Regions from separate parts of the Homo sapiens genome. Here region 2 is linked to region 1. The links come from fine-mapping of genetic effects on gene expression. A gene starts in region 1. The other region holds a variant in brackets. All regions are shown on one strand. Distances are between the middles of the regions. Region 1 holds the start of TSNARE1 (t-SNARE domain containing 1). Region 2 overlaps TSNARE1 (t-SNARE domain containing 1).

Region 1 (12,269 bases):
CCTGGTGCTGGGCCCCTCCCAGCACTGCACCCAGGCCCCTTGGAGCTGGGGAGAGTGATGGGGTACAGGCCCCGGGTCACAGGGGAGAATGTCTGGCCCTCCCCTCAGCACCTCGTCTGCTCTTCAGAGCCCATTTCTCAGCCACGGGGAAGCTGGGGTGTCTGGTTCAGAAAGGGATGATGGCGCTGCAGAGAGCGGTGGGGACCCCAAAGGCAGGGGAGAGGCCATCCTGATGAGGGCAGGGCTCAGGCCCCTGGAGATTTTCCCGCAATCCAGTGGAGAGGGAAACGCACTGGCTGGGGAGCCAGGAACTCAGTTCTGCCCCCACTGCTGGGTAGCTTTGGGGGCCACTTCCCTGCTCCAGGCCTCAGTTTCCTCCAGAATATTCCAGATGATCCTCAAGACCCCTTCCAGGTCAGTCACTCTAAGTCTATCATTCATTAATTCACCTTCTATCTAATTCATTCATCCAACAAACACACAATGAAGAGCAGTAATGGCCAGGTGCCAGCAAGGAGGAGTTCCTCCATTTGGGGGTGGGGGGACAACACAGTCAGCACCCAGCAGGCAGGAAGGTTGGGCCTGCAGAGCTTAGAGGAGGCCCCAGAGCTGGGCCGAGGGGTCAGGAAGGCTTCTTGGAGCAGGTGGTAGAGAGTGTGCAGAGGTGCAACCCTAAAGGATGAGCGGGTTACCCTCCAGGCAGAGGCCCAGGCTGTGCCAACACAGGAGTTGGACGCAGGCGTGTGGAGAACCAGGAGCTCTGGCTGCTGTAGTCAGAGGCCTGGGACACTGGGCAGGTGCTTGGATGTAAGCCTGGCATGACGCATGGCGCCAGAAGGCCTCAAGCAGGCAGTTTCCCAGGGAGACCAGGTGTGTAAGCCAAGCAGAGAGGGGCACTGCTGGGCAGGGCCTGGGGCCGGGCACACCCCGGCAACCTCGAGGACCCCTTCTGCTTCCATCAACAACCTAGGAGGTGCCCCCCCCACCCCCCACAGTTGCTTTCAGCCCACACACAGCACTGTCGTGAGCTTTGGCAGCACGCTTGCTGGGGAGGGAGCCCCTGGAAGTACAAACTGTTGTGATTTTGCAAAACGCTGTTCTCCCTGATTTTTACCTTAGCTCGTTAGCATCTCATTACCGTGTTTCCCTGTGTGCAGAAGTCGGGGTGTTTTGGGTTTCTGAGTGGGCATGGAGGCTGATTTCAGCACAGCGGAGTCAACTCCAGCTTCTGTGAGTATAAGAATGTTTGTGACTGTATGTGAGTATCTGGGAGTGCATTTGTGTGCAGATGTGAAGAGAGGTGGGGGCCAAGGGTGGGAGGAGGTGTGGGCAAGTCCCTACATGCCATGTCTGGAATAGGAGTTGGGGCAGAAAGTGATGCAGGAGGTGGATGTGGCAACCTTCTCCAGCAGCCATGTTAGAGCCACATTGCTCCTGCCTGGCAAACTCCTACTCATCCTTCAACACCCAGCCCAAATGCTCCTTCTCTGGGAAACCTCTCCAACATCCTGGACAGAACGTAGTGTTTCCTCATATCACCTTCTAACAACAGTCTCATGGTCCAGCGGTGACCCCTTTGGCTGGTCTGCCACCTCTTCAACTTCCGAGATACCCTGAGGGCATCATGCTGTGTTCCTTAGCTCCCATGCCTGGCTTTGGTGCTTGGGCATCCATGCAAGATGTCAATGGCAAATGCTCACCCACACACAATGCATGAGCTCGCATGTTCCAGGGCTTCCAGAGGGCCAGGCCCTGTGCTCAGCACTGTTCCAGGTTTCTCTTGCATCGACTCACTCAAGCCTCAGGTTGGCTCCACGGAGCTGGGAACTTTTTGGTGTGCATAGCACCGATGAGGAGGCTGATGCGCTGGGCCACCCAGCAGGCACACGGTGGAGCCAGGGGTCAAACCACACTCCCTGCCTCCAGGCTGAAAGGGCCCCAGGGATTGTCTGGGAGGCTGGAGCTTCTGGTGGCTCAGCTGGAGGGAGCACAGAGCAGGGAGGAGGGATATGAAGTGCGTCTGTCCCTAAACCGACCCTCATTACCGAGAGAATAATACGTGCCTTTGCAGAGCAGCTCATAGGATAACAGGTGGGCTGTGTCAGTGAAATGCGTCCCAGCATGGGGCTTCTTCAGCCCCTGCCCCTCAAGGGACGGCTTGGCTCAGCTCCTTGAAGAGCTGCAGAGGCAGGGCCAGGAGGGAGAGCGCTTGCCCTCGGCCCTGCCCTGAGCGCTCACCAGGTCTCCCCCAGGGGAACCCAAAGGTCAGGGCGCAGTCTTCTGCTCTTTCTGCCCCCAGCCTGGGGGATGAGGGCATGTCTTGTTCCTCCACAGGCCCAGGGCTGCCCACTCGAGGTGGCAGAGGTGGCCGCCTTCTCCCTCCCTGACACTCAAATGATCCCCCTGTCATTTGCTCGTCTTCCTCATCCATGCACAAGCTCCCCATTCATCCCCCTCTCCGCAATAGGATGAGGCCTCTCTCCTGGGACACGATGCCCCTTCCTCAAGCGCCCCAAGTGGACGTCTAGAATGCAGGAAGGGGAGGCTGAGGGCCTGCAGCAGGCGGCCCCTTCCCCTCTCTCCTTCTCTTTTCACTCAACCCTTGTCCACTCAACTCAGTGACTCCCAGGACAAGAACGAGAGCCTTGGGACCTGTTCCTTCCCTCTTGTGGCTCCGAGGCTGCTGGGCGGCCCTGCCTCCTGGCCACAGGCAGATGTACAGGGAAGGATGGCAGGGCGTGCTGCACCCACTCCCGCACGGGGCCAGCCACATGGGCCTTAGACGACAAGAGGGGTCGGAAGTGTGGCTGCATCAGGGGGAGAATAGGGGAGCATTCAGGGAGCAGCTGCCGCCACAGTCACCATCGTGTTCATGCTTATGCCTCTCATCGCGGGCTCTCACACGTGGGTACATGCCCTCAGCCCCACTCACCAGTGGCTCCTGATGGTTTCTAAGGTGTCCACCAAGAAGCCAGGTGCCAGCGTGCACGTCTAGGATGCTCACTGCCCAGCGTGCATGTCTAGGATGCTCACTGCCCAGCGTGAAGTGTCCTGGTCTCATTTGGGTACCAGGTCTAAATCCAAACAGCGGACACACAAGAACCACACATTCAGAACCAAAACGTGTGCTGTTGACTGTAAAAGAAGTGGTGAATGATAGCATTTTCAAAGTCCCTTCAGAGGCTGGGTGCAGTGGCTCATGCCTATAATCCCAGCACTTTGGAAAGCTGAGCCAGGTGAATCGCTTGAGTCCAGGAGTTTGAGACCAGCCTGGGCAACATGGCGAAACCCTGTCTCAAATAAAAAAACACAAAATACAAACAAAATGAGCTGTAGTCCCAGCTACTAGGGAGGATGAGATGAGAGGATTGCTTGAGCCTGGGAGGTCAGGGCTGCAGTGAGCTGATTGCACCACCGCACTCCAGCTGGGCAACACAGCAAGACCCTGTGTCTAAAAAAAAAAAAAAAAAAAATGGAAGCAGAACAAAATAAAGTCCCCTCGGCTCACTGGTTACTCCACAGGGCTATGACTTCGTGGCTGTTACAGGCTGAATGTGTGGAGAGGGGAGGTGCCATGACGAGGAGGCAGAGACCAAGCCTGGGGTGAGGTGACATGGGCTGGGCCCAGAGTGGCCCGGTGCTGGTCTGAGACCCTGTACGTGTCCCTCCCCTACCAGGTTTCTCACCTGTGGAATGAGGAGGAGCCAGGAGATGGGCCGTCTGAACCCTCCCGACCCCAAGCAGCTGGAGGGGTCAGGATGTGTCCACAGAGGGGAGTGGGACGTGGACGTTGCTGGCTCCTCTCTCGCCATGGTACTCACAGCTCACCCCCCAGAAACGCTACCCCTCAAGACTTGCCCATTTTGGTCTCCTCATTGATGGGCTTTCCCTGATCCCCATCCCCCCGGGTGCCCCCACGCCCCTGATCGCTCCTGCAGGGCCTCAGCACAGGTTCCCAGCACACACGTGTGTGATTTGCAGGTTGTCGACATTGGCCTGCCTGCCAGGTGGTGCACAGGGCTGTGTCCTGATGCAGAGACTGCCAGGTAACCCCAACCTTCCCTTTTTACTCAGTGCAAGAGTCCAGCTCTTAGCTGAGAACACAGCCCCTGGGGTGGAACATGTCCTAGCCTCCTCTGCAGCTCGAAGTACCCGAGACCCAGCTGTGGCCAAGGGGGGCTGTAAGCAGAGGTGAGGTGTGCAAAATCCAGGCAGCATCCCTAAAAGCACGGGTTGCAAGGTTGGGAAGAGTATGCCAATGTTTCCTCCCTGCTGGCTGAAAGCAGACATGATGGCTGGAGCTTCAACAGCCGTCTGGTACCGTGAGGCAAAAGGCCTATTTGGGGATTGATGGGGCAACCAGACTAAGGGGGCCTGGGGTCCTGATGATTGTGAGGCCACCTTTCCAGTCCTACTGCCTACCTGGACATAAAAATATCACATTAAAAGCAACCGTCAATCAAGCCACTGTTATTTGGGTTGTTCTGTCATCAGCAACCAAATCAAACTGGATGCTATCCCCAGATCCTAGCATGTTGCGCGGCGTGGAAGTAAAGCTTGTTCAATGAGTGAAAGAGGAGACAGGCTTTGCCGATGAGATGAACTGTGGCAGGAAAGAAACGGGCAGCTGTGCCCAGCAGCAGGCCTAGCAGTGGCTGTGGAATCTGGGGGGACTGCACCCTTGCAGGGCGGAGACTCCTCCTGTCCCCACGTCCCCACCTGCTGATCTGAGGCTCATGGATGCCAGGAGGGGGTCGGGGAGTGGGAAGCATTCCCAGGAAGGGTGGCAAGTGTCCTTTCCTGGACGATGCATCAGCAAGAACAGCACTCCACATGCTTGTTGATGGATTTTCTATTCTTTTACTTCATTTTTCTTTTTGTCACTCCTGCTCCATGTTAAACACCTTGGGAGGCTGTTATGCACATCAGGATGGAGTTGGTTTCTAAGAGCCTGGTCTCTGATGACGCAGACTGAGTCTTGAATGGTCAGACCACTGTCCTGTGCTGGGGCTGTGTCAGGCCCTTCCCAGAGACTCCCACGTGTCCCCTCATGACACTGCCTCTGCGTGGGTGACAAGGGAATGGACCGCCACCCTCCCACACACCCCATGCCCTTGGTTCTGCCCAGCCCTTTACCAACCTCACTCTTGGGCAGGCCTCATGACCGCTCTGCCCCTGCATTGCGGCTTTGGTGAACAAGCCTAGAGAAGGTGTGCCTCAGGCTGAGCATCACACAGCAAGACAGGGCTTAGTCTGGTGTTAGGACCAAAGTTTCTTCTCCTCCTCGTCTTTTTATTTTTTAAGATGTGGTTGGAAGCCCGGGCTGCATGGGGACATGTGGAAAACAGGCACCTGAGAGTGTGGCTCCCGCGCCCTCATGCCTCACAAGCTCCTCCAGGCTGTTCCAGGTGTGGGGCACTGTGTGTTCCAGGTGTGTGGGGCCATGACGCGCCCTTGGGGCCTGCCCGCAAGGAGCCATCGTTGTTGAGGGGCAGGACGCAGCTAATAGAACGATGTCCCACTCCCGTGAGCTTAGGAGCCCAAATCAGCTACAATGGAAGTGGCACTGGCTTCAGTTACAGAAAACCTGACGAAATCCAATGAGGCAGACCCATAAAGGGAGCAGGGGCTTGTTCTCCCCATGGTGATGAGTCTGACGGTGCCATTGGGGCACCAAGGCAGCTGCTCACATCCTCAGCTTGGGACCCTGCCCCTTGCTGGCCACATGGCTGCTGTCCTCGGGATGCCGTGCCCACACTTCAGGCTGGAGCCAGGAGAAAGGAAGACTGTCAGTGAGGTGGGTGGCCACAGCTGCCCCTTCCAAAGGACCAGGAGGCTCGATTGTGCCTCCTGCAGTCATCCCCTGGGCAAACAGTGTCACAGCTGGCCCAGCTGCTGGTGAGGCTGGCTACATTGATGCCTTGAACAAAACTGGGGTTCTGTTGCTAAGGGACAAAGGAGGCCTGGGTAATAGTGAGGGCGGCTCGGCGGGGTTGGTGGGTGCAGGAATCAAGGACTGAGTGCCCGTGGGCTTTGCTGGAGCAGAAGCTGTGCTGGGAGCAGAGCAGGAGGTGCACAGGCCTTCTCCTGTCCAGGCAGGGGCTGCAGGGGAGCAAGGGATGGTCTCCTGAGCAGGTGACATTGAAGCCAGGCAGCAGAGGGTAGAGAGGAAGGGTGGGAGGGTGGGGAAACTCACGACAAAGCCATAGGTTGACACTGACCTGGAAATTCAGCTTAAACCCTGAGAAGTCCATGCTACTATTCAGAGAGGGAGCATTTCTGAGGTTGGCTTTAGTGGGTGCTGCCTCAACGTTCCTTCCGAAGGCCTTGGAACCACCCCCTAACCTTGTTGCCCACATTCCCTCTGGGACCTGGAATGGTAGATCCAATTTGGGGGGTGCCAGCTGAGGACCAGGCAACCCCCACCCCCTTAGGTAACAGAACTCAGCGTCCTGGGGCCAATCCCACTTATTCACCCTGTTGGTCTCACTGGTTGGCCAAGGGGTGGGACCAGAGTTCTTCCCAGGGAGTCCTGCTTCTCTGGAGGAAGGAGGGAGCCCAGAGCTGCCCGAGGTCATGTGATGACCTCTTCCAGGGAGGGGCAGAGATGAGGGAAGGGAGGGGAGCCCCGGCCCTAGGCCCAGGCAGCTATTGGCTATTTCCCTCATCCCTTCCTGAGGACCCCTTAGCATCCTCCTCCCCCTCCCCATCGGCTCAGCCTGAGGGAGTGGGCTCCTGGCTCTTCCACGGAGAGGTTTACCTTCCCTGACTTGCTGTGGGGCACTCAGGCGGGCTCATCCCAGATTTCGGAGGAGCCAACAGGTACGGAGCCCCTCCTCTGGTGGTTCCTACCCACGCTAGACCATTCCCCCTGCAGTGTCCAGGCACAGAAACAGCCCCATATACGCCTTGTATGGTCAAGAAAGCGGCTCCTGGAGGTGGTCTGCCCTGGGAGGAAAGGGCTTCACTTTCCCCTCCTTTGCACACCTGAACACGGAGCTGTCAGAGGAGGCTGAGTGAGGTGGCGGCCAGACAGACAGCGCCAGCCACGGAAGGGGAGGTGGGCACCGTGCCAGGCACCCGGCATCCTCAGTCCAGACTGACAGCTCTCAGACAGGCATTGGTCCTGGCGAACCTTCCCCTTCAAGTGGAAGCTGGGGGGTCAGCAGTCATGGGCATCCTCCCTGGTTAGGAGCCGGCTTCCCTGCACTCTAGCTGTCCTAGCCGAAGAGTGAAGCCCTGTCCAAATCATGGCGAGGCTGCAAGACAGGCACACACTACTGCCTCCTGGGAGCCCAGGGGAGACTGAAATACACCAAGGCAAGGAGCGTGGGTGGGCCCAGGACAGGCCGGCCTGAGCACCAGCCCAGGAATGCTGGTGGGCATGTGCCCCTCTTCCCTCCCACCCATGTGTGCACACATTTGTGCCATATACTACCGTTCCCATGTTTGCGCCTGGGCACACACTTGTGCCAGCATACACACACTTGTGCACTTGCACCTGGTGTCCAGGAACACTCCCTCAGCTCACAGACGTGCGCTGTGTGCACACAGTACCACGCAGTGTCCACGAGCACACTTTTGTGTTCGTGTTCACAGAACCCGTGTGCGCACACATGCACAGTCCTGGGCTGCAGAGAACCCCAGCCAGCGGGGCGGTGGGGGAAGGGGAGGGCACGCCTCCTTCCCAGGAGCTCAGCAAGGCTGTCCGCGGGAGCCCAGGGCTGCCCGCAGGGCTTTGGCGTAGGCCTCGCAAGCACAGCAAGCATCACAGAGTGAGGGCGGCGGGAGAACCTCCGCTTGCCGGAGAAGGTGCAGCGGACTCATCACTCTTGCTCTCCTGCCTTGGGTGTGACTCTTGGTTCACCTCTGGGGAAACAGGCTGAAAGGTGACCCTGGCGGCCCAAGGACACACACCCATTGTCCGCAGGTTCCTCCCAGGTGTCTTCTCCAGCAGGTCACCGGGAGAGCGAGGGGCTGGAGTCTTTCGGGAGCTCAGTGCCCGCAGGCAGAGCAGGGAAAGGGAGGCGCCCCAGGCCCCTGCGGAAGGAGGTCCCAGGAGGGTCTCCGCAAGGGGCTCCCTACTCTGCACTTCAGCTCCTCCAGGGAGGGGCTGCGACCTCGGGCAAAGGTCCCTCAGATGTCTTGAGACTCAGTTTCCTCGTTGGTGACACTGGGAGTCCGGAGTCCCCGCGGGGCCTGCCAGCCCCCGGCCGAGCACGGCCCCACGCGGAGCCCGTGCAGCCTGACTTGGGGCCCAACGCCCGTCCCCGCAGCGCGAGACGCGCAGGTGCCCGGCCCTGCCCTGGCCGAGACCCGCCGCCTGCGCAGCCCCGCAGAAGCTCCAGCTTTGGCCCGTGTGAGGTCCGGGCTCGGCCTGGGCTGGGCGGAGCCCGCTCCCGAAGCGCCTCAGCGCCGGGCCGCCGCCCTCCACGTGACCTCCACCTTCGCCGTCATCCCCATATGCAAAACGGGGAAACGGGGAAACGGAGGCCCACCACCAGGCAAGTGAGGACAGCCGACTCGCGCGCGCACCCGCAGAGGCCTCTTGGCCCAGCCGACCGCCGTCCGCGCCGCTTCCGGCTCCGCGCCGGGGCCTCTGGGGCGGGTAGTCCCCGCGCGCGTCCGGGACCGGCGGCCATTGGCTGGTGCGGGAGGGGGCGCGCACGCCGGCGGCGGGAGGGGCCGTCACGTGATGTTTGGGTGCCCGCCCCGCCCGCCTCGCCCGCCGTGAGCGCCCGGAGCGGTCCGCGAGCCACCGAGGCCCAGGTGAGGCGGCGGCGGTGGGGCTGGGGCCTGGCCGGGGCCGGGCGTGGGGCGGCGAGGGCGAGGCGGCCGGGGACCAGCGCGGGGCCCGGAGCCCGGCGGGGGCCGCGGCGTGGCGTGGTATGGGGCTTGCGGGAGGCCGGGCGGGGGGCGGGGCCGCGCCGGTGGGGAGGGGAGGGGGCGGGACCGTGCCGGGGGTGGACCCCAGGGGCGCCAGGGACCCTGAGCCGCAGCCCCGCGAGAGCGCCGCATTTCGGGGACCGGCCCGCGGGCACATGAGCCCCTCGGCGGGTCCTCGCGCGCTGTTCAGACCCCAGGTCGGTGGGCTCTGGGCCGGGCAGCCGGTGCCTGCGCCTGGAGGTCAGTGCCGTCCCGGGGAGCGCCCCAGCGCCTACTTGCTGGGTGCAAGGGTTGGTGCCCTGCAGCTCAACGAGCGGAGCCCGCCTTCGAGCCTGAGCTGGGGACCCCGTTCCTGTGTGCTTGCCTCTCCATGCCTTTCTGTCCCTTCTCCAAGTTGTAAGAAGGTGCTTCCTGGGTACTGGGGCCTGCGACATCCCCACCAGGGACTTTCAGGTGATGTTGATCTGTGCTGCCCCCGCAGAAACTCTCCAGGGACCTCGTGTTTGTTGCCTCATGGCGCACTCCTCCTGCTCTGGAAGCTCTGCCATGTCCAGTGTGGTAGCCCCTAGGCATGTGTGGCTGTTTACATTGTCCTTAACGTGAAGGATTCAGGTCCTCCGTGCCAGTGGTCACATGTCCGACACTCAGTAGCCACACGTGTCTGGTGGCGGCTGTGTGGGGCAGCGCGGGTAGGGAACACTGCTTATCACAGGAAGTTCTGTGAGCGGTGTGGTGCGGCTCAAAATGGGCCTCGCGCGTGCTGCTCCGCCGGTGCTTCTCCGCCCCTCATCCTGCCAGGTGCCTTTCCAGCCACACCTGGCGCCCTTTCTTTCCTCTGCTGCACACTTGCCTCTTCTTTTAGTTCCTGGCTCGCTCCTGGCTTGGGGGCAGCTCCGCTTCCGGTATGTCTGAGCTCACCTTTCTGACCGCTCTCCCTACAGTATTTCTTGTTTGTCATTGTCACTCATCTGCTTGTTTTCTGTTTTATCTTTAGTGCCTGTGAGACAGGGGTGGGGATTGTTGCTTAGGATACTCCCAGTGTGGACACAGTATTGAGTTGAAAGAAAGCTGAAGTTTGTTAGTACTGGAGTGCTTCCCCCGACTGAACCGCTGCTTTCATACCGTTCGACCCCATACATCACAGGACCGCAGCAGAAATCTGGTAGAACAAATGTTTGGACACAGCAGCACAGGCCGTGAATGCAGGTGGCTGTGGGAGGCTGGCAAATCCAAGACGACTTCCTGGAGGAGGTTGAGTTTTGGCTGGGTCACCTCTGTTTCTCTCCTCCTCTGCTGGCCTGGCCCCATGAACATCTGGCAGCCTCTGGCTGCTCTGACTCTATCCAGGAACCTTCCCTGGACACTTCCCCTGAGTCTGGCCTTCTGTAGATGCTGGGTCAAGAGCCTAGACCTAGGCACTCAGTCTAGGGGCTCATGGGCAGCCAGGTGTCCCTAAGTCTCTTCCACAGCTCCTCATGGCCTGCAGAGCGAGGTCCTGGGTTTGGCTCCTGCCAGCAGCTCCTGCCACATCTTCAGTCCCTGCTTTATGTCCCTGACAGTGCAGTCATTTTTCCTGCATAGTCTGTGGCTTTTCTCACTGGTGTGCCTGTCGATGCAGAGCCTTCTGCTTGGAATGCCCTGGCACTCCCGTGTTTGTCTCTCCTGTGTGCCTGGGAGCCTCTGTGGCATAGACCTCTGCTGTGTCACCCTTGTGTCCTGAGCACCCCACCCAGCACCGAGAGTAGGATAAGCACCTAGCAGGTTTTGATGAATAAATACACTGGACACGTAAGACTTTGAGGAGAATGTGGTGAGAAGTACAGCTAGGTCACGATGCTGGAGCTTGAGATGGAATCAGGGAGTCACCTTCCAGGTGGGCGGAGTTGGGGAGTCACCTTCCAGGTGGGGAGGAAAGACAAACATGCCTCGACCATGGCTGTACCAAGCCATTCGCGACACGGCGTGGGTGCATCCTTCCACGGTCCTGAAAAGGGGTGGTGAGTGTCTGCAGGTGGTGACACTAATGATACTGGTCACAGCACCTCCTGGTGCCAGGTGACCAGGGAACTGTGTTCATTACTCAGTTTACTCTCACAGTCACCCTGGGAGGAGGGTCTGTTGTCCCCATTTCCCAGATGGAGAGACTGAGACACAGAATGGTGATCTTGCCGTGAGTCCCTCAACTGTCGGGTTCTAGGACGTCATTTGTTCAGCCCAGACAGACACATTTCTTCCGAGGTTGTTGGGCGTTTTATCCCTCTGAGTGGTGTTTGGCCATAAGAACAGTTGGCTAGGGGTTAGGCTGTCTTCTTCTTATTTTTATTTTTTGACACGGAGTCCTGCCTCAGCCTCCCAAGTAGCTGGGACTACAGGTGCCTGCCACCACACCTGGCTAATTTTTTGTATTTTTAGTAGAGACGGGGTTTCATCATGTTGGCCAGGATGGTCTTGATTTCTTGACCTTGTGATCCACCCACCTCGGCCTCCCAAAGTGCTGGGATTACAGGCATGAGCCACCGTGCCCGGCCCTTTTAATTTTTTTTGAGAAGCTTCCCTCTTGTTGCCCAGGCTGGAGGGCGTTGGTGCAATCTTGGTTCACTGCAACCTCTGCCTCCTGGGTTCAAGTGATTTTCCTGCCTCAGCCTTCCGAGTAGCTGGGATTACAGGGGCCTGCCACCACGCCTGGCTAATGTTTTGTATTTTAAATAGAGACGGGGTTTCACCATGTTGGCTAGGCTGGACTCAAACTACTGACCTTTAGGTGATCAACCTGCCTCAGCCTCCCAAAGTGCTGGGATTACAGGCGTGAGCCACTGTGCCCAGCCACTTCTTCTTTTTGGCCAGGCTAGACTCAAGCTCCTGACCTTCAGGTGATCAACCTGCCTGAGCCACACACTGTAATCCCAGGTGTGAGCCACCGTGCCCAGCCACCTCTTTTTTTTTTTTTGAGATAGGCGTGTCTCACTGTGTTGCCCAGTTGCCCAGGCTGGTCTTGAACTCCTGGCCTTAAGCCATCCTCTGGCCTCAGCCTCCCGGAGTGCTGGGATTCCCAGCGTGAGTCATGGCGTCTGGCTCCAGGCTTTTTGTTTTAATGCACACGGGCGTTTCTGTGGCTACTGGGTTTGTTTGGATGGTGTTACTTGCTACAAGTAGACTTTGACCTTGTGGCCCAGTCCAGCTGTCATTCATTGTGTTCTTTAAAGTCTGATTTGTGCATCGTCCATAGTAGCAGACTCCTGAGCAGCCCTCCTCTCAGATTCCTCTGCTTTCTGCTGGGATGCTCAGCCCTGTCTAAACATTTGTGGCATCTGTGTGTGGAGCAGTGGTGACCAAAAGACTAAAGGCAAGAAGGAGTGAGTGAGAGAGTTGGAGAGCTCATGGCC
Region 2 (16,539 bases), 130 kb after region 1:
CAGAGCCCCAGCGTACAGCTACCATGAGAAGGCAAGGCCAGCCAGCAGGTGGGAGGAGCCTCAGCCCATATGCACCTCCAGCCAGCTGGCCCTTGACATAGCTCCCAGGGAGCAGCAGGTGACCTGTCCATTCATTGGTCACGTTGAGGAGTTTGGGCAGAGCCAGGGAGGAGCCTGGGCCCCAGCTTGACTCTTCCCCGCCCCACGCTGTGCCTCACTCTGGCCTGCAGTGGCCTCCCCCTCCTTCTGCAGGCCCCTCCCTCTGGGCCCACTTGGAAGCCCCACACGTGGTGCTGTCCGGTGACTCTCAGCCTGTCAGGCACGCTGTGCCCCCTTCCGAGCCCACGGGCCCACTCCAGGGACCACCGGAAGCCAGGCGTTTCTGTCTGGTCAGGCCTCGTCTGCAGCCCGCAGCTGCCACTGGCTCCAAGGGTGACGCTGGCTCTGAGGGTGATGCTGGCTCCGTGCTTCCTCCTGCCGCCTCCGTGCCTCCTCCCACCGCACCTCCTCTCCTCCTCAAGACACCGTGCCAGGAGCTCCTTCGCCGTCCTCCGCATATGGTGGCACACCCTTCGAAGCAGAGCCCCGCTGGACCCTCCCCTTCCTGGGAGCTGCTGGAAGGACTTTGGGAACGAAGCCCCGGAAGCAGGACCAGCTCCTTGAGGGCCACAGAGTGGACAGAAGGACCCAGCCTCACAGGACAGGCAGGGGCTGGCCTCAAACGCCCCCAGTGGCAGCCATGGCAGAACTTGGAGCGCTGGGGCATCCTCAGCTGCTCCTGCTCACAGCGGTGCATGAGGCTGGGACCCATGGGCAGAGTGGGCCGGACTGGTTGGGAGACGCATGTAGACCCAGCCAACCCTGTGGCTGGGCTTGGACAAGGGGCCTGGGCTGTGGGCCTTGGGCGATGGGCCTGGGCACTAGGCCTTGTGGTGGGGCTTGGGGGATGGGCCTGGTCAGTGGGCCTCCTGATGGGGTGGGGCTGGAGGAGGATCTGGGTCCTCTCAGGCCTGTGCAGGCCAGGGATGGCTGGATCCACCCCCATTGAGGCCACATTGTCTCCTGAAGGGCAGATTCTTGCAGCCAAGGGTCCTATGGGCAGAGGCAGACCTGGTTTGGGGGTGCTTCATGGCAAGGATAGACATGTGGTGTGGGGCTGAGAAGGAGGGGCCTGGCAGGGGTGGCACTGGTGTGGCCCAGGTGCTTAGTCCTTTTCTGCAAGTCCTCAGCCCTGGAGGCTGCAGGAACTCAGGTTTGCTCACCCTGTGGTTCCCTGCCCTAGACTGAGACCCAGCCTCGACTTCTGTGACCCCTGGTGGATCAGCCACTCCAGGTCCCCAGGCCGCTGGGCTCCCCTGCAGCACGGGAGTCTTTGGTGCCTGTGAGCTGCTTTGAGTGGCCTGCCCTGCTGCTGACAGCAACTGACGTGTTGAATTCCCAAGCGAGAGTGCTTAGGACAGGGCCAGACTTCCTCTTGTGGGCGCAGAGGCAGGAAGTAGGAAAGTGGCTGCCAAGCCTGAGGACAGGGTGGGGGCATCCCAGCTGCAGGCCCAGTTGCCCCGAGCCGGCCATGCTTTCCGCTCTGCAGCGGCACTGCCTGGGGTTTGGGCAGGGCCAGGCCTGCAGGGCTGGTCACGGCTGTGGGGCTGGGGGCAGCGAGTTGACCCAGTGCAGGGGGGTCTCCCACAGGGGTCCCTGTGCCCTGAGGGCACTGGGCAGGCAGTTTCCTTTGAGGTGTGTGTGCTGCTCTGCGAGTGTCTGGGGAGGGCGGTCCCAAAGGCTGCTCTCTCTGGCCCCTGGAGGCCTCTGGCCTAGTGCTTGGGTATCCCTTGGACTCCTGGAGTCAGGGGATGTGCAAGGGGCCCCCGTGGAGCACCCCCTGTGTTGGGAGGAGCAGGTGCCCAGGGCCTGTGGCTCTGCAGGGCTCACCTCACAGACTGGGGGCCTCCAAGACCTGACAAAGCCACTGGGCCCAGGGCTGATGGCTGATGAGGTATTGGAGTGTCGCTCAGTACCACAGGTCCCACGCACCAAACCTGTCCTCACCCCACGAGCAACACGCGGCCGCACAGCACCGGGAGCAGCCCCCCTCCCCTTGTGCATCTCTGTGCACTGCGCCGGGGCAGGACATGGCGTGCCCACCTGGCAGCCTGGGCGCTGAGGGAGATGTTGCTGGCTGCGGAGCTGGGCAGTGGTTGTGTGAGGTGTCTTGAATGTGGGCAGTGCCATGCTGGCTAAGAATGCCCCTGGGACCGCCCTGGGTCTGTGGCCGGTGCATGCAGCCCTGGAGCAGCAGGACATCAGTCCCCATTCTGAGGGTGGGCCTCCAGGTCACACACTACGATCAGAGTCCCCAGGGCCAGGGCTAGGTGTAGAGCAGGATTGGGCACAGGCTGAGTCCAAGGGTGGGGTCCAGGGCTTGGCTGAGGCTGCGTGTGGTCACGGGGCAGAGAAAGTGTCCAGCCAGGGCACATGGCCTGTCCAGCACCACCTGTGTTAGCCCAGACCACCATGGCCTTCCTGTCTCTGCTGGCAAATGCTCTCCACTGTCCACATTCACCTCTCAGCAACAGAAGCGAGGCCAGGCTGTTACCACTGCAGGTGTAAGGTGGCTCCTTTGCACGTGAGCGGGGCATTGCCCGGGCCCAGGCTAGCGCCTCCTCCCTGGCAGGCTGGTCCCTCCTGAGTGGCAATTGTGGGGGGATCCGTCACACCTCTGGCCCCATCTTCCTTCCCTCTCCTCCTCCATTGGCTCAGAGGGTCGTGACCCTAATGTGGCAGGACATAGAGAGCAGAGTTCAGTTGGGGGCTGTCTGCAAGTGAGCAAAGGGGTGCTTTGCTCCAGGAGCGGCCGAGGCCGTCACCCATACCCGCTCTCTGGGCTTTGGCTCCTTGTGCAGGAGCCTGGCTCTCCCCTCCCTGGCTAGGGCAGGAGCCCCCAGATGCGGCGATCAGGGTGTGTCTGCGAGTGCCTGCGGCTCCACTAGGGCCCTGCGCTGGGGGCAAGGGTGGGGTGGAGCTGGTGACCAAGGGTTCAAGGATCCCTGTGAGGCCTGGGTGGGGGCTTCTGAAGGCAGGGCTCATGGGTTCCACCTCCTGCCCAGGGGGCTTGCAGAGATGGGGCCACAGTTCCCTGATGAGAGTAGGGAGTCCTTGCTGGGACGGTGGGGAGTGGCCTTGTCTTTCTGAGGACCCTCCTCCCTCAGAGCCAGTCGTGCCAGGCTGTGCCTGGCAGCAGTCCCTGTGGTTGTAATGGCCTCTCTATCCCAGGCCTTAAGACCCCTGAGGCTCAAGTCAGCTCAGGTCTGTGCCCTGGTAGGCACTGCAGGTGCACAGTTTGTTTAGATACTCCTGCCTCCCAAGCTCTTCTCCAGTTGCCTGATTGGAGGCAGGCCTTGCAAGGAACCTCCCTCCGGGAAGAAGGCTTGCCCGTGCTCGTGTTTGCTCGTGTTTGCATGTGGCTCTGTTGAGGACCCCGGCTGTGCCTGCGCTCCTGGTGCCCAGGTGGCATGTGTCCTTCCTTTGGGTGGAAGACAATGCTGAGCATGGAATCTTCCGGATCCCTGGGGCTGCCCCGGCCCTGGTCTGGTGTCTCCCGTGGGCCCTGCTGATGTGGCTTCCCTGGGTGGCACTGCTGCAGCCACCGAGCCCGGCTTTTCCCAGGTACCATCTCCCGTGATCCCCGCACGGCAGCACAACTTTCTGATCAGCTCCCTGTGCTTGAGTCGAGGGCCAGTGCGTGTGGCAAACCAGAGCCCTGTGCTTGCAGACCCGGTCTCCATCAGCCGCGTCGCAACTCCACAGACGTTAAGGCAGGGGCTTTGCCCCTTCAGAGGGGGCCGTGGCCACAGAGTGGAGGGGCTGGCCCAGGCAAGGTCATGACAGAGCAGGACTTGACCCCAGCCCTCACCTCCGCCTGCCACTCCCACCCTTTCCTGAGTGGACTCTTCCTGCCCCACCTGGTGTGGGCACTGAGGAGTCCCCTTCCCTGGGCCACCTCCAGGCCTCCGTTCTAATGTCATTGCTGCCCACTGCCCACACCACGCGGAGCCCTCGGCACGTCTGGCAGCCCAGCGCCCATCCCTGCAGCCTCTGCTCCTCTGCAGGCCCTGGGCTCAGGCTCCCTGGGCTTGCCTTTGGGGGGTGTCCTCAGGGCGGGGGCGGCTGGGCCTCCATCTGTAATTGCCTTCTGTTGTCTTGATTTGCAGATAGTATTGAAGCCAGCCTTGAGGCTGCGTCCTCGCATGCGGAGGCAGCCCGCCAGCTCCTGGCTGGAGCCAGCCGGCACCAAGTAAGTCCGTGTGAGGGCCACAGTGCCCGGCCGGCCCGGCCTCCGTCCCCTATCCTCCAACCCTCCCTCCGTCTGTCTGGAGGGGCCCAGGCCCTGCCCTGTGCCTGGGAGGGGCATGCCCACAGGCCTCCTCTGAACCAGTCTGCTGCCCGTGCCCTAGGGCTCTGGGAGTGGCGGGGTTGCGGCAGCAGTGGTCTGCGTGGTGCCCACAGCGGTCGGCACCGTCTCCTCTCTTGTATGCACCACGCCGCCCTCTCCCATGGATCCGGGGTGCAGCCGAGGGGAGGGCCCTTGGGGCCTTCCCGCTCCACCTCCTGTGCCAGATGCTGACATGCAGCTCAGTGTCCATACTGGGGCGGGGAACTGCAGAGGGGACTTTGTGGTTGGGGCAGGTCAGTGGCTCAGAGGGAACAAGAAAGCTCAGGCCTTTATTTTCTTGAAGTGGGACTTGGAGCTACCTTGAGGACTAGCCACTCACTGGGCCTTGTTGCTGACTTGTGGTCACCACAAGAAGACCTGACAGGTCAGGCTGGCTGGAGACTGTGGCCCAGCTGAGATGGAGGCCCAGCCGCTGTCTTCCCCTCACTGGCTCTGTCCCCATTGTGGCCTGGTGCTCCCCACTGGCCCTGACGGGCAGAGATGACCAGAGCCTGTTCCTCAAGGAGTCCCAGGGGCCAGGCAGGCTGGACATTAAGTCCAGCAAGGTGAGGGTGGCATGGGCCACGGTGGGAGCGCAGAAGAAGCCCCTGGGCCAGCTGGGGCCAGGAGAGCACACACTCTTGAGGGCGGAGCAGGGGCAGTATTGGCAGACGAGATGGTGCAGTGGGTGTGAGGCCAGGGTCCAGGAGCAGCCAGACGAGCCCAGGACATCACAGGCAGGTGTGACGAGAGAGGAGCCACATCCCCAGGACGCTGGGATATCACAGCTGTGCCCGCAGAGGGTCCTCAGTTGCCTCAGGGGTGCAAGAGGAAAAGGGGGCCGCAGCTGGAACCACGCAGGGGCCTGACTGGGTGGAGAATGAGGGAAAGGCCAGGGCTGCCTTGAGCTTCCCCAGTGGGACCCAGCCCGGGCACCCCCACTGTGGGAGTGTGTGGTAACGGGGAGGCTGATCCCAGTTTGGGCCTCCCCATTTCTGTCGGGGGCCATGAGACTCAGAAGGTTCAGGTCACCAAGGGTCAGTCCCTGTTGACAGCTGGTGAACGCCAGGCCGGGAGACAAGACCTGGGAGAGGCTGTGCCAAGGTCACCTGCAGGATGAGGTCAGAGGCAAGGCTGGGGCTGGGTCTCCTGGCGCCAGCTCTGGGCTGTTTGGCCTCAGCCCTTGGCCCAGCACCTCTAGTCGCTGAGGGCAGCTAGGCCCAGGGGCCTCCAGGAGGCAGAAGGTGATGGGCAGAAGGTGACGCCTGGTGACGGGCAAGGTGGACTCGCTGGAAACTCAGGGCCACACCACGCAGAAGGCCTTGTTTCAAGAGGAAAGCCAGCCAGCAAGATGACCCCTCCTGAGCACCCTGGGATCACCTGGTCAGAAGCAGCGCTGATGCCTGGGACGGCAGGAGGACGATGGGACAGTGAGGAAGAGGAGGAGGTGAAGGAGGAGGAGGAAAGGAGGGCAGTGGCAACTGGGCCAGCCACCTGTGCCATGGACGCCGTGCCGCATTCCCAGTGAGCCTGTGGGCTCAGTCCTGGCAGAGCAGGCACCGCCCCCCCGACACACTGCAGAGGAGGTGGGCAAGGCTCAGGCCCAGGAGGCGGCCGTGAAGTCACCTCTGCATAGACTGTCCCACTCCTGTTCCCGAGGGGGTCCACCAGGGAGTATCAGGGAGGGATGAGGCATCTGTGAAGTTGCCTCTGCATAGAATGTCCTGCTCCCACCTGCCTGCGAGGGGCCTTCCCCACGGTGTCAGGAGGGTTGAGGCATCTGTGAAGTTGCCTCTGCATAGAATGTCCTGTTCCCGCCTGCGAGGGGCCCTCCCCACGGTGTGTCAGGAGGGACCAGGTGTCTGTGAAGTCGCCTCTGCGTAGAATGTCCTGCTCCTACCTGCAAGGGGCCCTCCCCACGGTGTGTCAGGAGGGATGAGGCCTCTGTGAAGTCGCCTCTGCATAGAATGTCCTGCTCCCGCTTGCGAGGGGCCTCTAGATGGGCGGGTGGATGGATGGAAGGAGGAAGGTGTAGATGGGTGGGTGGATGGAAGGAGGAAGGTGTAGACGGGTGGGTGGATGGAAGGAAGGTGTAGACAGGTGGGTAGATGGAAGGAGGAAGCTGTAGACGGGTGGTGGATGGATGGAAGAAGGAAGGTGTAGACGGGCAGTTGGATGGGTGGATGGAAGGAGGAAGGTGTAGACAGGCGGGTGGATAGGTGGATGGAAGGAGGAAGGTGTAGATGGGCGGGTGGATGGATGGAAGGAGGAAGGTGTAGACGGGTGGGTGGATGGAAAGAGGAAGGTGTAGACGGGCGGGTGGATGGGTAGATGGAGGAAGGTGTAGATGGGCGGGTGGCTAGGTGGAAGGAGGAAGGTGTAGACGGGCAGGTGGATGGGTAGATGGAAGGAGGAAGGAGTAGATGGGTGAGTGGCTGGGTGGATGGACAGACAGCATGGATAAATGGGTGAGTAGACGGATGGATGGATGAATAGAAGGAAGAGGAGGTTGGAAGGGGTTGGCTGGACAGTGATGAACAGACAGGTGGACAGATGAGTGGATGTGGTGGGCGTGTCTATGTGGAGGAATAGACACTTGGGTAGCAGGATGGCGGGTAGACCAGAGGGCAGGCGGACGAGCGGATGGAGCACAGGGGAGTCGGTGGGAGGATGAATACAAGTGGTGCTGTGATGAGTGGGCACGCAGGCTTTGCATTTGGACAGGCTGTGGCTTCAGTCCCAGCACTACTAGAGTAAATGTGCCCACCTCTCTGGGTCTGTTTCCTCATCTCTCAAACGGGTGCAACTCCCACTGCAGACGGAGCATCGTGAGACCCATACAGCTCCAGGTGCAGAGGCCTCACATGGGCACTCTCCCTGCACCCTGCTCACCCTCCAGATCACTGGGTTTTGGGTGTGCAGGCTGACATTTTCCTGTCTCCCTCTGTTAGCTGATGAGGAGGACGAGACCCCCAGCTGCTTGTGGCTGCCCCTGAGGTCCCTGGAAGGGCCCAGCCTGCCTGAACCTGACCCCCTGGACTTACGAGGAGTCTTCCACGCACCCACCTCCTCACCCTCCCCACCTGCTTCCCCAGCCTCCACCCCACCAGCAACCACACTCATGGGGGCCTTCCAGCCTTCCCCGCCCTCTTCGGCGCCAGCACCTCCCTTGCCCTCCAGGAGGACCCCAGCGGCAGCATCTGAAACGTCCGCATTTGAGCAGC[A/G]GCTGCTGGACTCCCACCGGCAGCAGGGCGCCCTGCTGTCCTCCTGGGCCCAGCAGCAGAGCACACTCATGGCCCAGCAAAACCTGCTGCTGCAGCGGCTGGCCGAGCAGAGCCAGCGTCTGGCCGATGGCGTGGAGGCCCTCAACCGGACCCTCGAGAGGCTGGTGGAAGCACGCCCTACCCGGGAAGCCTCACCCTCACTCCAGGACGGTAGTCCTGCCAGTGGAGTGGCCCAGGGGCCTGCTGGAGGCTCCCAGGACAGCCCCAAGGGCACCCACTCGGGGCTCGAGGTCTTCTCAGGGATGATCTTGAAGGTGGAGGAGGAGATATAGGGCTGGTCGGGGGTGCTGGCAGAGCCAAAGGGCAGGAGCAGGGCCTCCAGTCTTTCCCCTGCTGAGTCCAGGCAGGGGAGAGGTGGCAGTGACTGGGTCTCCAGGGCACCGGGACAACTCCAGTCCAGGAGACCGGAAGGATGAGAGGATGTGGGCTGTCTACCTGTGATGTCGCGTCCTTGCCATTGCCTGTAGAGGGTGGTGACCTGCAGGGAAAGGCTGCAGAGAGCCGACCTGTGGGACTCAGTGGACCAGGTCTACTCAGGGATGATGCTGTTGGAGGCTCCAACCCCATGTGGCAGCAGCTGCGAAGTCTGCAGCCCAGCGTCCCTGGAAGCAGGGGAGGTGGGGAAGATGCACTGAGGGGCCCCCTGCTCACTGGAACTCTGGAAAGGGTGGCTCAGCCAGGCTCTAAAAAGGTCCCAAGCGTGATCTGGTGTGACTCCTGAAAGCCCCTGTCCCTTTGGTGGGCATGCACACTTGGAGGGCAGGGCTCCTCTGCCCTACGTGGTTCTGGCCCAGGGGAACCACATCCCATATGCCTGGAATAATTTCTATCCAATTTTCTGTTATAAATACATAAATATATATATATATATATATATGCCTATATATTACTTGGTACTGTATGGGGCTGGGATGACATTTTGTACCTGTAGATTTTTCTTGCAAAAAGTATTTTTTTACATAAGCATAAAATGACAAAGCAGGCAGCAGTGCGGCTGCTGACGAGCACGTGAGTTGGAGCCTGCTTCTCGGGCGTGGCAGGCACCGCTGCTTTCAGCCTCCCTGCGGGGGCCTGGGCACTTCCCTGCGTCTTCAGATCCTTCTTCCTCCATTACCTCCTTTGACTCTTGGGAGATCCCTTGGCGGGGCTGCCACATCTCCAGTCCCTGCGCGGCAGGGCACAGTCTGCAGCCCCCCAGCCTAGGCAGCCGTCGGGAGCGAGCAGGAGCGGGAGGTGGGACCAGCCCGGGCCTTGGCTAGTCTGGGGCCTCTGCCTGGCTCCCATGGCCCAAAGCCTGTCCCAGGAGCAAGATGCTGGCTGACTGGCTTGAGTGGGAGGCATGCTGGTCCCAGGAGCTTCCGGGGAAGCTCTGGCACAGCCGAGAGTCAAAAGACTACAGCATCCCTGAGAGCAGGGAGAGGGGCCTTTTCCTCGTTTTGCGTTTTCCCCTGGAGCCAGCAATGTGTCAGTAACTTGTCTATGAAAGAACCTGAGGTGTAGCCACATGTCCAGCTGCCTTCTGCGCACGCCTGGCCTCCCTCCAGGCTACCCCTTCTATGGGTGCGCATGGTGCTGCTGTTGGTTCTGGGCGGGGCCTCCACTCTGATGGTTCCACCCTGGGAAAGCTGGCCTTCCATCCTGCCAAACCAGATGACCTCAGTCCCACCACCTCCAGGAAGCCTCTGTAGATCTTCATTCTGGGTTCTTGTCCATTAAAAATACCCACCATGGCCTGGGCACAGTGGCTCATGCCTGTAATCACAGCACTTTGGGAGGCTGAGGCAGGAAGATCACTTGAGGCCAGGAGTTCGAGACCAGCCTGGACAGCATAGCAAAACCTTGCTTCTACAGAAAATAAAGCTTAATAAATAAAGATACCCAGCACGGCTGACAGTGGCCTCGTATGGCTGTGTGTGTTTTCTGTCTTGCGTTACAGTCTTAACCTGGACACAGCCTCTACTCTGGTGCTAGCTGAGCCCCAACCTTCACCCCACACTGTGTCCTGACTGCAGTTGCACATTGAGCCTTGACCCTGAGCCCTGATCCTGCTCCTGCACTATGTCCTGACCCCAGTTACACATGGAGCATTGATCCTGGTCACTGACTTAGCCCTGATCCTGGTGACAGACTTGGCCCTGATTCTGATCACACACTGAGCCTGATCCTAGTTACACACTAAGCTCTGGCCCCAGCCCTGACCCTGGTCAGTCCAGGCATCTTCTGGGAGTATCCTCTGGGCTGAGCCCTTACTAAGTGCTGAGGATACAGAAACAACCAAGGCAAACTTGAGGCCTCTTCTTCCAGAGCTTAGCGTGTGCTACAGAAAACGTATACTAAGCAAGTCAGTACATATTTGATGAAAGTTATTTTGTGTATCAGTTAAAAATCAGTGTAACTGCATTTGGTAGGAAACAGAGAATAGGGTGTCTTAGAGTAGATAGGCGTCATGGCCCCTACGTCACCGACATTGATGACCTGGAGCTGGCAAGGCAGGGCCACAGTCCTCAGAGGTCCAGGTGTCTTTCTGCTCCCTTCTCTGCCGTGGTCCTCATGGCCCAGGATGGCTGCAGGCCTCCCCCCATCACGCTTGTGTTTCAGGTAGCAGGGTGTAGGGAAGGAATGGAGGAAGGTCACACACCCTCCCTTGAAGGAGATCTCTGCCTGCATCTCAGCCCACTGACTGGGAGTTAGTCAGATGCCCACATTTCGTTGCATTAGAAGCTGGAAAACACGGCTTCAGCCCCAAATCAGGATTTTGTTACTAAGACGGAAGGGACTGGATGCTGGGGTAGGCAGCGTGCAATCTGCCAAGCTGGGGCGTTGACAGAGCTGGGATTGCACAGTCTAGAGTGTCGGGGGCTTCCCTGCAGGACGGACAGCAGAGGCCTCCAAGGCGATTTGGCAGTAATCACTGCAGCCAGCGAGGGGCAGGAAGATCCAGAAGTACCTCAGGCAGAGAAGACCAAGGGCCAAGCTAGGAGAGCCGGCTTCACCTCTGCATTGTGGCTGAGGAGCAGGGACTCGAGAACTTAGGGGCAGAATGGGTAAGTCCTGGTCCATGTGTCTCCACAGTGCACACGTGCCCTTTGCACTCTAGGACAGTTTCCTGAGAGCTGCTCAGATGCCGAGAGGCCAGGCAGGAGCATGGCCAGGACAGCAGATGGCTGTCCATGAAGCTCCATCATCCAGTGGGGGCATGGAATGGCAGGTGGCACGCAGGGAGGGCAGAGGCCATGCCTGGCCCTGAGGGCAAGGGTGTTTCTGGATGAAAGGAGAACCAGGAGGGTCCAGGAGTGTTGCCCTCAGATCTGGGCCTGGAAACCCCTTCTCTTGGATGTGGGCCAGGGGTGGCCTGAGGTTCGCCAGGAAGGAGACTGTGGTCTTGGCTTCACCAGGAACCTGTCAGGATCAGAGCTTTTGAGGAAGGAATGCTCTTAGCAAGCGTGTGAGAGAGGCACCCGGGAAGACCTTGAGGGTTGCCGACCTATCCCAGATGGGATTTCAGTGGGATTCGTATCCACACTGCTCACCTTGGACACTGTGCTTCTTGCATTCCATCCCCCAGGCAGCCCAAATGTTTACCAGGAGAGATTAGGAGGATGGTGGGTCTGTGATGAGAAATAGGATGTGGCATTCTGTGGCGGAGCTTGCCTGCAGGGCCTTCCAAGGTGTGTTTTAGAAAGAGGCCGGGGGGAGTGGCAGGGATGGTTCCTGTCAGAGCTAGAGAGCCCGGGTCCCCTCACTAGGTCCCCCATTTTACAGACAGACTGAGAGCCCAGGGTGGTATTGGAGGGGTGGTGTTGAAGCTGCAGGGTCATGTCCAGGTTCACAGAGAGTGCTAGAGGCAGGCCTTGAACCAGGTGTCTGGATTCCAAGTTCATGCCCTTTCCCTACGCAGTGCTGCATTCCAGGTGAGTGAGGACAGTTTTCAGGTGCCTCATCCATCTGGCTCAAATGAGCACGGCCAGCTTGCCCACCCTAGAGGATCTCAGGAAATGAGGAAGGTTCTTGCCCTGAGCCTGAATAAGCACCAGGTCCACCTGTGGATCCTGGATCCAAGAAGAAGGTTCTGGAGAAAAGATCCCCTAGTCAGGCCTTTGGGATACCCACAAAATAAGAAGAATCTTTTGGGCCTCCAGTTGGAAATCACTTGGTCTGTAATGGGGAAAGCCGTTGAGGGAAAACCAGGAGGAATATCCAACAAGAGCAAAAATATCAAGTTTAGACCCCAAAAGATTTTAGCTGTTGCAATTAATCAGACATATAATATGATTTCTGTGAAATATTTTTAAAAATAAAAAGATGAAATCACAAAAATGAGCAATAAGATTCTAAAAAGTGATTAGGCCGATCTGTGAAATATCAGTATGGCTTTTAGAAATGAAGAACTTTGTGGATGGGTTAAGCAACATACTGGACATAGATGAAGTTAGTAATAGCAAACTCGAAGATTTCTAAAGAAATAATGTTGCAAAGAGAGGTAAGAAAATAGAAACTACGACAGATGAAGAGATGGGGAGAGTAGAACCAGAGATGCAACATATGTCGTCTTGGAGTCCCGGAAGAGGAGGATCAGTGAAATGGAGGAAAGCAGTGTGTGAAGAGGTCGTTGATGTGATGTGTGATTCCACAGACACAGGAAGCACGAGCATACTGAACACATACATGAAATACCTTCCTGGGCACATCATGGGTGAACTGTGGAACAGCACAGAGAAAGGGAAAGCCTCAAGCAATTTGAAAGAAGGGAGAAGTGATGACAAATTTGCCGACATTTCACATTACATTGGCAGCAGAGGAAGCCAGAAAATGGTAGTATCTACAAAGTATTGAGAGAAAGTCGCTGTCAACTTAGAATTCTGCAACTGACAAGACTACCTTTCAAGATTAAAGGCAAAATACAGACATTCTATCCAAATAAAAACTGCGAGGGCTTACCACCAACAGGCCTTCATGAAAAGGGGTTTCCAAAAAATGGACTTCAAGGTGAAGGACTGGAATCCCAGAAAGAGTATGTGTAATGCAAGAAGAATAGTGAACCAAGAAATTGGTAAATGTGTAAGTAAATCCAAATCCTCATTAAGGTTTTAAAAAGTCCATAATTACTAGAATGTCTAATTTGTGGAATAGATTTTTTACAAAGGATGGAACTACTGGACAATGATAGTATATTAAAGGTGAAGAATTGTCCAAATATTCTGAGATCCTTGTATTTGCAGGGGAGTTAAATATTGATTAATTTTAGCCTGTGCTAGTAACTGTACATCATAAAAAAGCTCAAGGGTTCCTTCATCAAAATTGGAAACTTCTGTTCTGCAAGAGATCCTGTTAAGGGAATGAAAAGAGAAGCCAGTGACTAGTAGAATATATTTGCAAATCACATGTCTGATGAAGGATGTATCCAGAATATATAAAAAGCTCTCTAATTTCAACTGAAAGAAAACAATTCCATCAGAAAGTGCACAACAATTTGATCCGACACTCACCAAAGTAGATATATGGGTAGCAAGTAGGCTCATGAAAAGATGCCCCACAGCAGTAGCCATGAGGGAAATACACATTAAGCCCACACCGCGATGCCACTGCCTGCCGCTGAAGTGACCAAGAGGCACGGGGGTGAGGAGAAATGGCTCGCTCATGCACTGCTGTTGGGCATGTCAAATGTTACAGCCACTCTGAAAAACAGTTTTGTAGTTTCTTCAACATGTAAACATAACACTTACTATACAACACAACAGTTTCACTCCTGGGCATTTATCCTAGAGAAAGAAAAACTCATGTTCACACCAACACTTGCACACAGATGTTCATCGTGTCTTTATCTGCCATGGCCCCAAAGTGGAAAAGCCCTGCTGTGCCTCTGCAGGTGAGCAGGTGAACAGACTGCCACGGCCACACAGTGGAGTTCTACCCAGGAACAAAAGGAGCCCACTCGGAAATGCCAGCAACTCAGACGGTTCTTAAGGCATTGTGCTTAATGAAAAAGCCAGTCTCGAAAAGGCCATGCTTTGTGACTCCATTTCTGTAACATTCTCAAAAGGGCGAGATCACAGGGATGGAGGGCAGAGCGGTGGCTGGTTGTCAAGGGTTAGGGAAGTGGAGTGGGGTAGGGTGCAGTTGTAAAAGGCTGCAGGAGAGCCTTGTGGTGGTGGGACAGTTTTGTATTTTGAACATGGTGCTGGTGACATGAATCTACATATGTGATAAAATTTCATAGAACTACACACACACACAAACTGAGTAGAAAGTTAATAAGAAACTGAAGACTAAGGTAACCTAAGAGTATTAGAGTATATAACTTCCAAATCAGTAAAAATGGAATAAGAATACAATTAAACAAAAACCTATGTTGAATAGAAAGGAGAAGGCAAAAAATGCAACAAAAAGAAAAGGAGAAGCAGATAACACAGAAGAAAAATGCAGGACAGGGCGAGAACACAAAGAAGCATTTGGAACTGTCCAGTGAGCAAAATAAATGCAGACAGATTAAAAGGGCTCATCAGAGTTAAGGACTGTCAGATTGGAGGAAAAAATAACACCTTTACTATTGACAAGAGAGGCACTCCAACATAGGACCAAAGGGGCATTGGAAGGAAAGGTGTGAAGATTTGCCAGTCAAAAGCTATGCAAAAGAGAGCTTAAGTAGCAATGTTAATTTTAGACAAAATGGACTTTAAGACAAAAAGTATATATTAAGGATACACTGGAGTCACTCCAGAATGGGTTCAGCTCATCGGGAGGATGAAAAATCCTAAACCCTTCTACACTTAATAAAATACATAAAGCAAAAGTGGGTAGAATTACAGAAGGAAATCAATGAATCTATCAGGACAGCGGAAGGTTTCAGCACGTTGTTTTAGAGATTGATGGGGAGTGTCAGCAGGAAACCTAAAAATTTGAACACCAGCGCTGAACTTCACGGATGCTTACAGAACCCTCTGCTACACAAATAGAGGGCACTCATTTTCTCAGGTACAACCGGAATATTTCCAGATTTTGACCATGGACTAGGTCATAAAGCAAGAGTCAAAACATTTCAAAAGATCAGTAATGTGTAGAACACTTCAATCACTAGAAAATGCAGTTAGAAAAATGCAGCCATTAGATATTGGTGGCAAAAAATAAAAAGGTCATTGTATGTTTGGAAATTTTAAAACAGTTCTACATAACTCAGAGGTCAAAGAAGAAATCATTAAGGGATATGAAGTTAATAGCTAGGTACAAAGACATGATTGGATACTATTGAAAATACTGCATATCAAAATTTGTGGGAGACTTCAATGAAACTTAGTAGCCTTCAATGCTTATACTACCAAAGAAAGCTGAAAATTAAAATAGACATTAAAAAGACTTTTTTTAAGTAAAGGAACAACAGAATGAACCCAAAGAAATAGAAGGAAGAAACTTGTAAAGACAGGAGCAGAGTTAACTTTAACTTTAACTTGTTAAAATTTTAATGGAAGGCGCTACAAAGTCCAAAGCCAGTTCTTAGGAAGGACCATTTAAATAGTTGAACTACTAGCAACAGCAGTCCAGGAGAGAAAGAGCAGACATTTCAAAATAACAAGAGGAGTCCATGGATAATCTCATGCCAACACATGGGGAAACTCAGCTAAAAAATAGACAGATTCCTAGAAAAGTCCACTTTGCCAACATCAACTCTAAATAGCCTCAGTCATTCTTTAAAGAAATTGAATCAGTAGGAAAAATTCTTTCCATGGTGAAGACACTAAACCCAGATGATTTTTAAAGCGTATTCTACCCCACTTTCAAGGAAGAAATCCAGTCTTACACAAACCTTCCAAAGAAAAATAAAAAGAGGGGAAATTCCTAAACGCATAGGATGAGGAACAAGCACACGAGAAGGGGATGTTTGAGGCCAGTCCACCCCTTGAACTAAACCGTGGTGATCCCAAAGAAAACACTAGCAAACTGCAACCAGAAGTGTTTGGAGATACGGCATCCTCGCCAGGTTGGATTTACGCTGGAAGTGGATTTAACACTGCTTATTTATTCATTTAATCAACAGGAAACCTATAAATAGAATTCACCCCACTGGAATAGAAGAAATAAGAAAAAGCAGATGATTGCCATTTCCAGACGTCCTGAGAAAGTATTTGTTACAATTGAATACCCATTCATATTTTTAAGACTCATCAAAATAGAAAGGCAAGAATTTTCTTAACTGACCAGGATTATCTACCAAAACCTCAACAGCGAACATTCACGGTGAGATATGAGGAGCCCTCCTTTAAAAACAGAGAAAGTCGAGGGTGCTAGCTGGGCTCAGTTAGAAAGGACACCCAATCATATGTAAAGACTGGAAAAGAGGAAACACAACTGTCTTTATTCATAAAAAGAACTCCTGGACAAATTAGTAGAATTTATAAGAGAGTTTGTGAAGTGGCTCGTCTAAAGTCCACATGTTATTACAATCAAAGGCGTTTCCGTACATAGTCAATAAGTGTGTTAGTCCATTCTTGCTTTGCTGTAGAGAAATACCTGAGACTGGGTAATTTATAAAGAAAAGAGGCGTGATTGGCTCACGGTTCTGCAGGCTGTACGGGAAGCATAGCGGCTTCTGCTTCTGGGGAGGCCTCAGGGAACTTACAATCATGGTGGAAGGCGAAGGGGAAGTAGGCACGTCTTACATGCCTGGAGCAGGAGCAAGAGAGGTGGGGGAGGTGCCACACACTTTTAAACAACCAGATCTTGTGAGAACTCACTATCGCCATGACAGCACTAGGGGGATGGCATTAAACCGTGAGAAACCGGCCCTCATGATCCAGGCACCTCCCACCAGGCCTCCAACACTGAAGATTACAG

Evidence for each region. PIP is the estimated chance that this variant, and not a neighbour inherited with it, causes the effect.
Region 2: its variant is fine-mapped to the expression of TSNARE1 in skeletal muscle (GTEx, PIP above 0.99).

What each region holds. Positions count from the first base shown.
Region 1 is chr8:142,399,604-142,411,872 of GRCh38, reverse strand. It overlaps TSNARE1 (t-SNARE domain containing 1), which reads left to right and starts at 8,691. Exons shown (of 14, transcript NM_145003.5): 1 at 8,691-8,769. RefSeq lists enhancers at 1,359-2,037, 7,786-8,561 and silencers at 7,793-7,842, 8,283-8,852, 8,993-9,132.
Region 2 is chr8:142,262,533-142,279,071 of GRCh38, reverse strand. TSNARE1 (t-SNARE domain containing 1) reads left to right here. Exons shown (of 14, transcript NM_145003.5): 12 at 4,209-4,291. Among named protein-coding and RNA genes, the nearest start is that of LINC00051, 72 kb to the right of the region's middle. The variant A/G (reference allele first, on the strand shown) is at 7,654.